Homo sapiens: one gene and its partners. The protein of the gene in region 2 purifies or fractionates together with the protein of the main gene of each other region. This does not show direct contact. Each region holds a gene or a part of one and is shown on either strand. Other genes may lie near its edges. The genes, in order: POGZ, CBX3 and CHD4.

Evidence for each region.
Region 1: the proteins of CBX3 (region 2) and POGZ purify together in Homo sapiens (affinity purification with mass spectrometry; 7 studies listed by BioGRID and IntAct, with this or other methods). This does not show direct contact.
Region 3: the proteins of CBX3 (region 2) and CHD4 purify together in Homo sapiens (affinity purification with mass spectrometry; 6 studies listed by BioGRID and IntAct, with this or other methods). This does not show direct contact.

The regions. Positions count from the first base shown.
Region 1 is NC_000001.11:151,449,359-151,453,012, forward strand, and holds part of POGZ (pogo transposable element with ZNF domain), read right to left. Parts: intron 1,591-3,654; exon of another isoform or gene 1,552-1,590; intron 1-1,551. UniProt on the Homo sapiens protein: Plays a role in mitotic cell cycle progression and is involved in kinetochore assembly and mitotic sister chromatid cohesion.
Region 2 is NC_000007.14:26,208,245-26,211,898, forward strand, and holds part of CBX3 (chromobox protein homolog 3), read left to right. Parts: intron 1-148; coding exon 149-311; intron 312-3,417; coding exon 3,418-3,512; intron 3,513-3,654.
Region 3 is NC_000012.12:6,572,981-6,576,533, forward strand, and holds part of CHD4 (chromodomain-helicase-DNA-binding protein 4), read right to left. Parts: intron 290-3,553; coding exon 94-289; coding exon of another isoform or gene 91-93; intron 1-90. UniProt on the Homo sapiens protein: ATP-dependent chromatin-remodeling factor that binds and distorts nucleosomal DNA. Acts as a component of the histone deacetylase NuRD complex which participates in the remodeling of chromatin.

The DNA of each region.
Region 1 (3,654 bases), on a different chromosome or scaffold from region 2:
AGTCACAATCAGGGTGGGGGTGAGGAGAGGTGTTACTGACCTATCTAGTGGGTAGTGGCCAGGAGTGCTACAGAACATCCTACAATGCATAGGATAGCCTGGAGATTATCCGACCCTAAATGTCAATAGTGCCAAGACTGAAAATCACTGATCAAACTGAATACATGTTCTGAAAACGAGGGCAATTAAAAAAAAATCATCCCACATTCTATACATAAAGAACTATCATTTCTTTTTAAAAATATTTGTCCTCTCAGGCCAGGCACAGTGGCTCACGCCTGTAATCCCAGCACTTTGGGAGGCCGAGGTGGGCGGATCACGAGGTCAGGAGATCAAGACCATCCTGGCTAACACGGTGAAACCCCGTCTCTATTAAAAATACAAAAAATTAGCCAGGCGTGGTGGCGGCCGCCTGTAATCCCAGCTACTCGGGAGGCTGGGGCAGGAGAATGGCATGAACCTGGGAGATGCAGCTTGCAGACTGCACCACTGCACTCCAGCCTGGGAGACAGTGCGAGACTCCGTCTCAAAAACTCTGCAAGAGAGCAGAACAAGGTTCTTATGAATTATTCAAATGGTTATATCTTGTATGTTAAAAATTTTTTTATAAAATCCATATATATCTAGTCTGTTTCATCCTATAATCACCTACCTGTGAAACTTGATTTTTTTTTTTTTTTTTTTTTTTTTTGAGACGGAGTCTTGCTCTGTCACCCAGGCTGCAGCGCAGAGGCACGATCTCGGCTCACTGCAACCTCCGCCTACCGGGTACAAGTAATTCTCCTGTTTCAGTCTCCCAAGTAGCTGGGACTACAGGTGCCCACCACCACGGCTGGCTAGTTTTTGTATTTTTAGTAGAGATGGGTTTTCACCATATTGGCCAGGCTGGTCTTGAACTCCTGACCTCAGGTGATCCACCTGCCTTGGCCTCCCCAAAGTGCTGGGATTACAAGTATGAGCCACAGCACCCAGCCAGGAACTTGATTTTATCTTCATATTCATCTGACAACTTTTAGGTCACAGGGTCTTTGTCGCCTGGGCTGTAGTGCAGTGGCGCGATCTCAACTCACTGCAGCCTCGACCTCTTGGGCTCAAGCAATCCTCCCGTCTCAGCCTCCCAAGTAGCTGGGACTACAGGCATGTGCTACCACGCCTGGTTAATTTTTGTATTTTCTATAAAGCTAGAGTTTTGCCATATTGCCCAGGCTGGTCTTGAACTTCAGGACTCAAGTGATCTGCTTGCCTTGGTCTCCCAAAGTGCTGGGTTTTACAGGCATGAGCAGTCGTGCCCAGCCTCCCCAGTTCTAAATTTTTTCTTGTTGTGGCCCCTTTACAATTCCTCTACAGGTTACTTTTGCTACATATAAACTCTTCTAGCTTCTTCAACTTTCAAATCATTTTTGCAGAGGGCAATGCCTCAAAGTGACAAAATGGAAACCTATTTCTATGTTCTTCCTCAAAAATCTTATTTATGGTTGAACTTAAAAGTTACAGTAGCTCTGTATCTCAAAAGCCAAAGGTTATGATTGTAATATGTTTAAATAGAAAAACCTTAGCCAGGACCGGTGCAGTGGCTCACGCCTGTAATCCCAGCACTTTGGGAGGCCGAGGTGGGTGGATCACTTGAGGTCAGGAGTTCAAAACCAGCCTGGCCATGACCATGACCAGAGATGTGGTGAAACCCCGTCTCTACTAAAAAAAAAAAATACAAAAATTAGCCAGGTGTGGTGGCACACGCCTGTAATCCCAGCTATTCAGGAGGCTGAGACAGGAGACTGCCTCAAAGGGAAAGAAAAAAGAAAAACATTAACCAATAAACTACTGACTAATAATTCACATTAGTTATCAGCTGTTTTGTCTATGGCATTTTTTTGCAAACAAATACACAAGAAAAGCCAAAAACAATGTATGAAGTATTACTGACAATAATATTTAACCTGAATCAAATCAATTATTTATTTATTTTATTTTTTTTTAAATTTTTTGAGATGGAGTTTCACTCTTGTTGCCCAGGCTGGAGCCCAATGGCGCGATCTCAGCTCACTGCAACCTTCACCTCCTGGGTGCAAGCGATTCTCTTGCTTCAGCCTCTCAAGGAGCTGTAATTACAGGCATGCGTTACCATGCCTGGCTCATTTTGTACTTTTAGTAGAGATGGGGTTTCATCATGTTGGTCAGGCTGGTCTTCAACTCCTGACCTCAGGTGATCCACCCGCCTCAGTCTCCCAAAGTGCTGGGATTACAGGTGTGAGGCACCGCGCCTGGCCCAAATCCATTATTTAAATGTAACTTTGCGTTTACAAGAAATACAGCAATAAAAGAACAAATTAAGTATCACCACAAAGAAATAATGAGATAAATCCAGAAGGTGGGACATTCTAGAAGGAAATAATCAAATGCAGAATATGGAACATTCTATAAAACTAATAGAAGTCTCTTTAAAAATGTCAATGTTCGGCTGGACGCGGTGGCTCACGCCTGTAATCCCAGCACTTTGGGAGGCCAAGGCAGGTGGATCACCTCAGATCAGGAGTTCGAGACCAGCCTGACCAATATGATGAAACCCAGTCTCTACTAAAAATACAAAAATTAGCCGGGCGTGGTGGTGGGCACCTGTAATCCCAGCTACTCAGGAGGCTGAGACAGGAGAATTGCTTGAACCCGGGAGGTGGAGGTTGCAGTGAGCCGAGATGGTGCAATTGCACTCCAGCCTGGGCAACAAGAGCAAGACTCCGTCTCAAAAAAAAAAAAAAAAAAAAAAAAAGTCAATGTTGGCCGGGCATGGTGGCAGGCCAAGGTGGTAGGATTGCTTAAGGTCAGGAGTTCAAGACCAATCTGGGAAACAGAACCGATCCCTCTAAAAAATTTTTAAACAGAAAGGATAATCATATTATATTCATGTAGGAGAATGTATTTATTCCTAGGAAATGCACAAAATATTTAATAGAAATATCTTGAAAGTGACTTTCAAGGGGTTAAGCAAATACATAGATATTTGGCTTTTTTTTTTGAGACAGGGTGTCATTCTATCCCCCAGGCTGGAGTGCAGTGGCACAATCACGGCTTATTGCAGCCTCAACCTCCTGGGCTCAGGTGATCCTCCTGCCTCAGCCTCCCAAGTAGTTGTCACTACAGGTGGGCTATTTTGATATTTTCTTATAGATACTAGTATGCCAACTTTCAAAAAATATTTGGCATGGGCCAAAACATTAAAAATCATCCTGTCACCAGGCGCAGTGGCTCACGCCTGTAATCCCAGCACTTTGGGAGGCCAATGCAGGCGGATCACAAGGACAGGAGTTCGAGACCAGCCTGGCCAACACAGTGAAACCCCGTCTCTACTAAAAATACAAAAATTAGCCATGCGTGGTGGCTGGTGCCTGCAGTCCCAGCTACTCGGAAGGCTGAGGCAGGATAATCGCTTGAATTCGGGAGGCAGAGGTTGCAGTGAGCCAAGATTGTGCCACTGCACTCTAGTCTAGGCAACAGAGCGAGACTCTGTCTTAAAAAAAAAAAGTCACTCTGTCTAGGTGGTGGATAGTTTAAGTGTTCCTTGTAGAATTCTTTCACCCTTTTCTTTTTTCTTCTTTTTGTGATGGAGTCTCGCTCAGTTGCCCAGGCTGGAGTGATCTTGGCTCACTGCAACCTCCACCT
Region 2 (3,654 bases):
GGGTAATGTAGGGAAGGAGGAAATGATTAGTATCTGCAGTACAGAGGACTTTTTATTCCCCCGGGTGTCTATTAAAATAGATCTGGATAATGGTGATGAATCATATTTAATTCAATCACCTTTTTTTTTTTTAATAAACTAAACACAGTGCTGACAATACTTGGGAACCTGAAGAAAATTTAGATTGTCCAGAATTGATTGAAGCGTTTCTTAACTCTCAGAAAGCTGGCAAAGAAAAAGATGGTACAAAAAGAAAATCTTTATCTGACAGTGAATCTGATGACAGCAAATCAAAGAAGAAAAGAGATGCTGTAAGTATAAAATATTGCCCACCAGCTTGTCCTTTTGTAAAAGGTTGATGGCTTGATTTCTTTTTTGTTTGTTTGTTTTTTTGAGATGGAGTCTTGCTCTTGTCGCCCAGGCTGGAGTGCAATGGCATGATCTTGGTCACTGCAACTGCCGCCTCCTGGGTTCAAGCGATTCTCCTGCCTGAGCCTCCCAAGTAGCTGGGATTATAGGTGCCCACCACCACGCCCAGCTAATTTTGGTACTTTTAGTAGAGATGGGGTTTTGCCATGTTGGCCAGGCTGGTCTTGAACTCCTGACCTCATGATCCTCCCGCCTCGGCCTCCCAAAGTGTTGGGATTGTAGGCATGAGCCACCACGCCTGGCCTTTTTTTTTTTTTTTTTTTTTTTTTTTTTTTTTTCCTGGGAGACAGAGTCTCCCTCTGTCACCCAGGCTGGAGTGTAGTGGTGCAGTTTCGGCTCACTGCAACCTCCGCCTCCAGAGTAGCTGGGATTACAAGCGTGTACCACCACACCCAGCTGGTTTTTGTATATTTAGTAGAGACGGGGTTTCACCATGTTGGCCAGACTGATCTCAAACTCCTGACATCAGGTGATCCACCCGCCTCGGCCTCCCAGAGTGCTGGGATTACAGGCGTGAACCACCACACCAAGCCCACCTTTGACGACTTGCTTTTTTAAAATTCAGATACTTTTATAAAAGGCCTCTTAATCGTATTTTAAATATTTTAATACTTAGGACAATAAGGATGGGCGTGGTTTAGCCTACTTTGTGTAAATGTGCAGTAAGTGCTCATGCCACTTAGGTTGTGCTAGTGCAATTTTTCTTAGTTTCATGGATTTGATCCCTGATCAGACCAATTACCTGTGATCCAAGGCTAGCAATCTTAAATACAAACAATACTAAGATTGGATTATCGAAAGCCTTTGCACTACAGTAAGAACAACGCAAATAGAACTTTCTGATTATAGTCCATCAATGGCATTGACCACCGAAAAGTACTTGCATGTCATCTTTGTATTGCCAAACAATACCTTGATTTTGAAGTCTGTAATCTTTGATAATAGTTAAACACTTTTCTTGGCATGAATTGAGACATTCAGTTCATTCACTATACATGTGTTTTGGTCCAGTCTTTGCTTTACTTATGTCTCTGTGGCGTCAGGCAAATCAGGTAACTTCTTACTTACACCCTTGATTGTAAAACAGATTATACTTGTCTTGCCTACTGACCTAGTGTGGCAATTTGGGGAAACATCTTGGTGCTGAATTAGGTTCTAGGCTCAGGCACTAAACATGATTTAAAACTTGATCATTTGAACTAGAAGCCAAGTACAACCTTCAAGACAACTCTGTATAAGGTCATAGGTATAATCACTATTTTACAGATGAGGAAACGAGATTGACTACAAATTTGGTTTTGAAAATAAATCACATGCTCAACAGAAGCAGTTTTGGCCAGGCACGGTGGCTCGCACCTATAATCCCAGCACCTTGGGAAACCAAAGCAGGAACATCGCTTGAGCCCAGGAGTTGGAGGCCAGTTTGGGCAACATAGTGAGACCCCATCTCTACAAAGAAAAAAAAAAGAATCAGCAAGACGTGGTGGACACCTCCTGTAGTCTCAGCTACTTGGGAGGCTGAGGCAGAAGGATTGCTTGAGCCTGGGAGTTCAAGGTGCAGTGAGCTGTGATCATGCCAGTGCACTTTGGCCTAGGCAACGGAGCAAGACCTTGTCTCAAAAAATTATTAAATAATAAATCAGGCACAACTTTAACAACACTTATTGAGTCCTTAGCATGTGCTATACTGTGTGCCAAATTATTTGCTTTTAATGTGCTGTGAAATATCTGTGCAGTAGATACTAAAATTCTGTTTTATTAACCTAAACCACAAAGAGGTTAATTAACTTGCCCAAAGCCACACAGCTCGTAAGTGGGGTAGGTCCATCATTCTCACCCAGGCAGTGTGACTCCAGAGCTTGTGACATTGATGTAAAACTCTGACAGGAATAAAGGATTTATTGATATCATTGGTTCTCAAACTTTTTTTGGTCTCAGGGCCTCTTTATACTCTAAAAAAATTATTGAGGATCCCCAGAGAGCTTTTGTTTATATGGGTTATAATTATCAATACTAACAGTAGAAATTAAAACAAATTTCTAAAATGACTTTTCTAAAAAAGCTGAGAAGAGTAGCATTTTACATTTTTACAGATATTCAACATGTGTCTTAAGGCAATTTTACTTAAACACATTTGATTGCTGTGGCGGATCATTTTGGTGGAGGTATATGAAGACAATCCAAAGTCACAAATAGATGAAAAAAGGGGGCCTTACACAACCCCCTCCCAAAAAGGACTCTGGAATCCCCAGTGAATCCGTAGACCACATTTTGAGAGCCACTGGTTTATATTAAGTACTTTCTAGCGCAGGGGGTCCAATCTTTTGGCAGCCCTGGGCCACATTAGGAGAATTGTCGAGGGCTACACATAAAATAGACTTAATACCAACCATAGCTGATGAGCTAAAAAAAAAAAAAAAAAAAATCGCAAGAAAGTTTCAATGTTTTAAGAAAGTTTACAAATTTGTGTTGGGCCTCCAAAGCCATCCTGGGCCACAGGTTACACAAGTTTGTTCTAACATTTACTATCATTTAGAATGATTACAGATAGTTGGTATGAGTTTTAACATTTTTAATATTTCTTACCGTTTGTGTTTTGTTTATGCTTTTAAAATGTGTCAGTAATTCAGACTAATTCCTGGAAGTCATTTGAAATATATTAACTTTCAAGACTTTATTATTACCAGAAATAAAGAGGTTAGTTTTTCTGTATGCCCACACAACTCTGACTTTGGTGTCATTGAACGCAGTAATTTTCTTGACTTTTTATTCTGAATGTTTTCAGAAATTTTAAGTATTCTACGTTGAGTATCAAACTCAGGTTTTTCTGCTTGTAAAGTTAATGGAAATCAGATGTTTTTAATTACCAAATATGGGTTCTTGCTCTAGTCATTTCCATCTCACTATTGGAATGTTTTTATTTAAAATACGCCATGAAAACAATTTAATACTCTGAGTTTGCTGTATGAAAAAATGTCTTCTAAACAGGCTGACAAACCAAGAGGATTTGCCAGAGGTCTTGATCCTGAAAGAATAATTGGTGCCACAGACAGCAGTGGAGAATTGATGTTTCTCATGAAATGGTGAGTATGCAGAGATTGTTACATTTGAAAGTAAGAGTAGCTTTTTTTTTTTAATTTGTGAAATGGTTTTTCATCATTAGGTAGGGAAAAACTATCTGCTGAGAGGATGATTCTGGTTACTTTTACTAGTAGTGTTTTAAAG
Region 3 (3,553 bases), on a different chromosome or scaffold from region 2:
AGCTCTGAAAGTTTGAAAACAAATATATGTACATTAGGATGCAGTCAGATCAGGGAGGCCGAATCGGCAGGAGGCAGGGGAGCCACTGGCTACCTTTGTGCAGGACTGCATTGGCTGGCTTGTTTCCTGCCATTGACTCCTTGGACAGGTGCTGATGACTTTCCGCCAAACACTCCACCTCAGCAAAGCGGGTGTTGAGGGCCATGGAAGGGTGAGAAGGGTCTTCTGACATGTTCAAGTAAGCAGCCCGGCGCAGCTGTTCCTCAATCACCAGAGCTTGTTCTAAGAGCTGGACAAGGGATAAGAGGAAACGGGAGTTCGACTGATAACTCACTTTACTCACTTCTGACTGGCCTCTCAGCTCACCTCTCATTGTTTCAGATGGTAATAAGAACCTATGAAGAACTTCATGGACAGCTCATTCCCACACCCAAGTAGTTTAACTTTGCCTTGTAACTTTTTTCTTTCCCTTTTTCAATGTCCTCATTTTTAAAACTCTTTACCCTTTAGGTTCTCTTATACAAAAGCGATAAAAACTCAATTTAGAAAATAGAATATCAAAAATTTTTAACAACAGATAATCCCACCTTCTAGAAATACATCCTGATATTTTTCTTTTTAGGTTTTTTTGTGCATAGTTTTTTACATAACTGAGATCATACTATATACATACCCATATTATGTTTTCATTTAGTTACACAGTTAAGCATCTTCCTTTTTATCATCTACTCTTTATCAACTACTCTTCAAAAACATGTTTTGGCTGGGCACGGTGGCTCACACCTGTAATCCCAGCACTTTGGGAGGCTGAGGCGGGCAGATTACTTGAGGTCAGGAGTTCAAGACCAGCCTGGCCAACATGACAAAACCCCGTCTCTACTAAAAACACAAAAATTAGCCAGGTATGGTAGTGCGCACCTGTAACTGCAGCTACTCAAGAGGTTGAGGCAGAAGAATGCTTGAACCCGGGAGGCAAAGGTTGCAGTGAGCCAGGATCGCGCCACTACACTCCAGCCTGAGTGACAGAGGGAAACTGTCTCAAAAAAAAAGGGGTTATTTTGCTATTTAAAAATATTTTTGTTTTTTATTTCCTCTTATCGCCATCTCACTCCCATTCCTCTGAAAAGCAACTTTTCTAATGTAGTAATACTGTGGCTTTTTGTGTAGGTTTTTAAAAACTGTTTCTGTTTCCTATGTATGTTTCTAAGTTACAGAATGATGTTTTCTGTATCTATAAAATGCTTTTTCTTCTCCCACTACATACCTTTTAAAAGGTACTCTTATGTTGTATGCACATGAATTTTGTTGCTTCTGTTGTTTAATGCCCCATGATATGAATACATGTTTCACCTATGCATTCTCCTAATGCTGAACATTTATGTTGCCTCTAGGCCCCCACCACCAAAAATCATACTGCAAAAACACTCATGCACATGTCATCTGATGGAGCTGTATTAAAGATTCTTTGAAATATATCCCAAGAGGCAGAATGTTGGTTCTTAATTTATGAAAAGATTTTAATTACTTAAAAAATATATTCATAAAACATATGACTCAACATAAGAGAAGATTTCTCATACCCTTCTCCTCTCCTAGTGTCAGCCAGCAGTTCTATGCAGATGATTTGATGCTTCTCAAACATGTACCTTCAGCACTGGTTCTGATCCCACTAGTGTATGGTGATGGGGGTCGGTAGTGGGAGGGGTGCTGATTTGTGAGAAATACCAAAAGACTTGTCTAAAATTCGATATCATTCTTTTCTACAAACTGCTCCCTCTCTTCTTAAATGACAATTTAACTTTCTCAGTGACTCAGGCTCAAAATGTTATTTTCAGTCTCACTCATTCTGTACCTCAAATCCAGTAAGTCAGGAGTTGGCAAGCTACAGCCTGTGGGCCAGATCTGCCCCACCACCTGTTTTTATATGGCTCAAGAGCTAAGAATGGGTTTTACATTTTAAAATGGTTGGCAAAAAGTCAAAACAAGACTATTTCATGCCACTTCATGAGAATTATACAAAATTCAAATTGTAATATCCATAGATGAAACGCTGAAACACATCCTAACTTATTCATTTATGTATCCCCTGTGGCTGCTTTCACACAACAAAGATGGAGTTGAGTATATGCAACAGAGACTACATGTCCCACAAAGGGACTATCTGGCCCTTTAATAGAAAAGGTGTGGTTGGGTGCAGTGGCTCACACTTGTAATCCCAGCACTTTGGGAGGACAAGGCGGGCAGATCACCTGAGGTCCAGAATTTGAGACCAGCCTGGCCAATATGGCAAAACCCCATCTCTACTAAAAATACAAAAATTAGTCAGGCATGGTGGTACATGCCTGTAATCCCACCTACTTAGGAGGCTGAGGCAGGAGAATCGGTTGAAGCCAGGAGGCAGAGGGTGCAGTGAGCCAGGAAATGTCGCCACTGCACTCCAGCCTGGGCAACTGAGTAAGACTTTGTCTCAAAAAAAAAAAAAAAAAAAGGGTTTTATTAACCGTTTTTGGTTTGGGGGGAGAAAAAAAGGTTTGCTGACCCCTACAGTAAGTCACTAAGTCCAATAAATTCTTTGGTGTTGTTTCCTTTATCTTTACCCTTTTCATTTTCCACAACCAGCATCACAGCCCAGACCCTTAACACCTCATGATTATATGACAGTTTTATAATCTTATGAATGCTGTTTCCATTTCCCTTGGTCCTATCAAAACTCTGCTCACAAACTTTCAGTGGCTGCCCATTAACGATAGCGTAAAGTCCAAACTCTCTTATCTGGTGCCAAGAACCCACCTACTGACCTCTAGCCCGTCCACCTTTCTCGTTCCAACCTACCTCCCACCATCACCCAACACAAATGTTTCCCTACAGCTCAACTGGGCTATCTGCTATTTCCAGACATACTAAGCTTTGCTGGCTCACATCTTTGCCCAACCTAATCCCTTTGTTCAGATACCCTTCTGTTTCTACCAAAAAAATCTCCGTCGCATTCTTCAAAACTTCATTCCAATGCCATCTTCTCCATAAAGCCATTTGTGAGTTCCGTCCCTACTCCAATTCCCTCTCGAGAACTTTTTTTTTTTTTTAAGACAGGGTCTTGGATGGGCACAGTGGCTCACGCCTGTTATCTCAGCACTTTGGGAGTCCGAGGCGGGCAGAACATGAGGTCAAGAGATCGAGACCATCCTGGCCAACATGCTGAAACCCTGTCTCTACTAAAAATACAAAAATTAGCTGGGCGTGGTGGCACACGCCTGTTGTCCCAGCTACTCGGGAGGCTGAGGCAGGAAAATCGCTTGAACCCGGGAGGCAGAGGTTGCAGTGAGCAGAGATCTTGCCACTGCACTCCAGCCTGGCAACACATCAAGACACTGTCTCAGGAAAAAACAAAACAAAACAGGGTCTCACTCCAATGCCTAGGCTGGAGTGCAATGGCACAATCTAGGCTCATTGCAGCCTCCTAAGTAGCTGGAACTACAGGTGCACGCCACCAGAACTGGCTAATTTTTGTATTTTTTGTAGACATGGGGTTTTGCCATGTTGCCCGAGCTAGTCT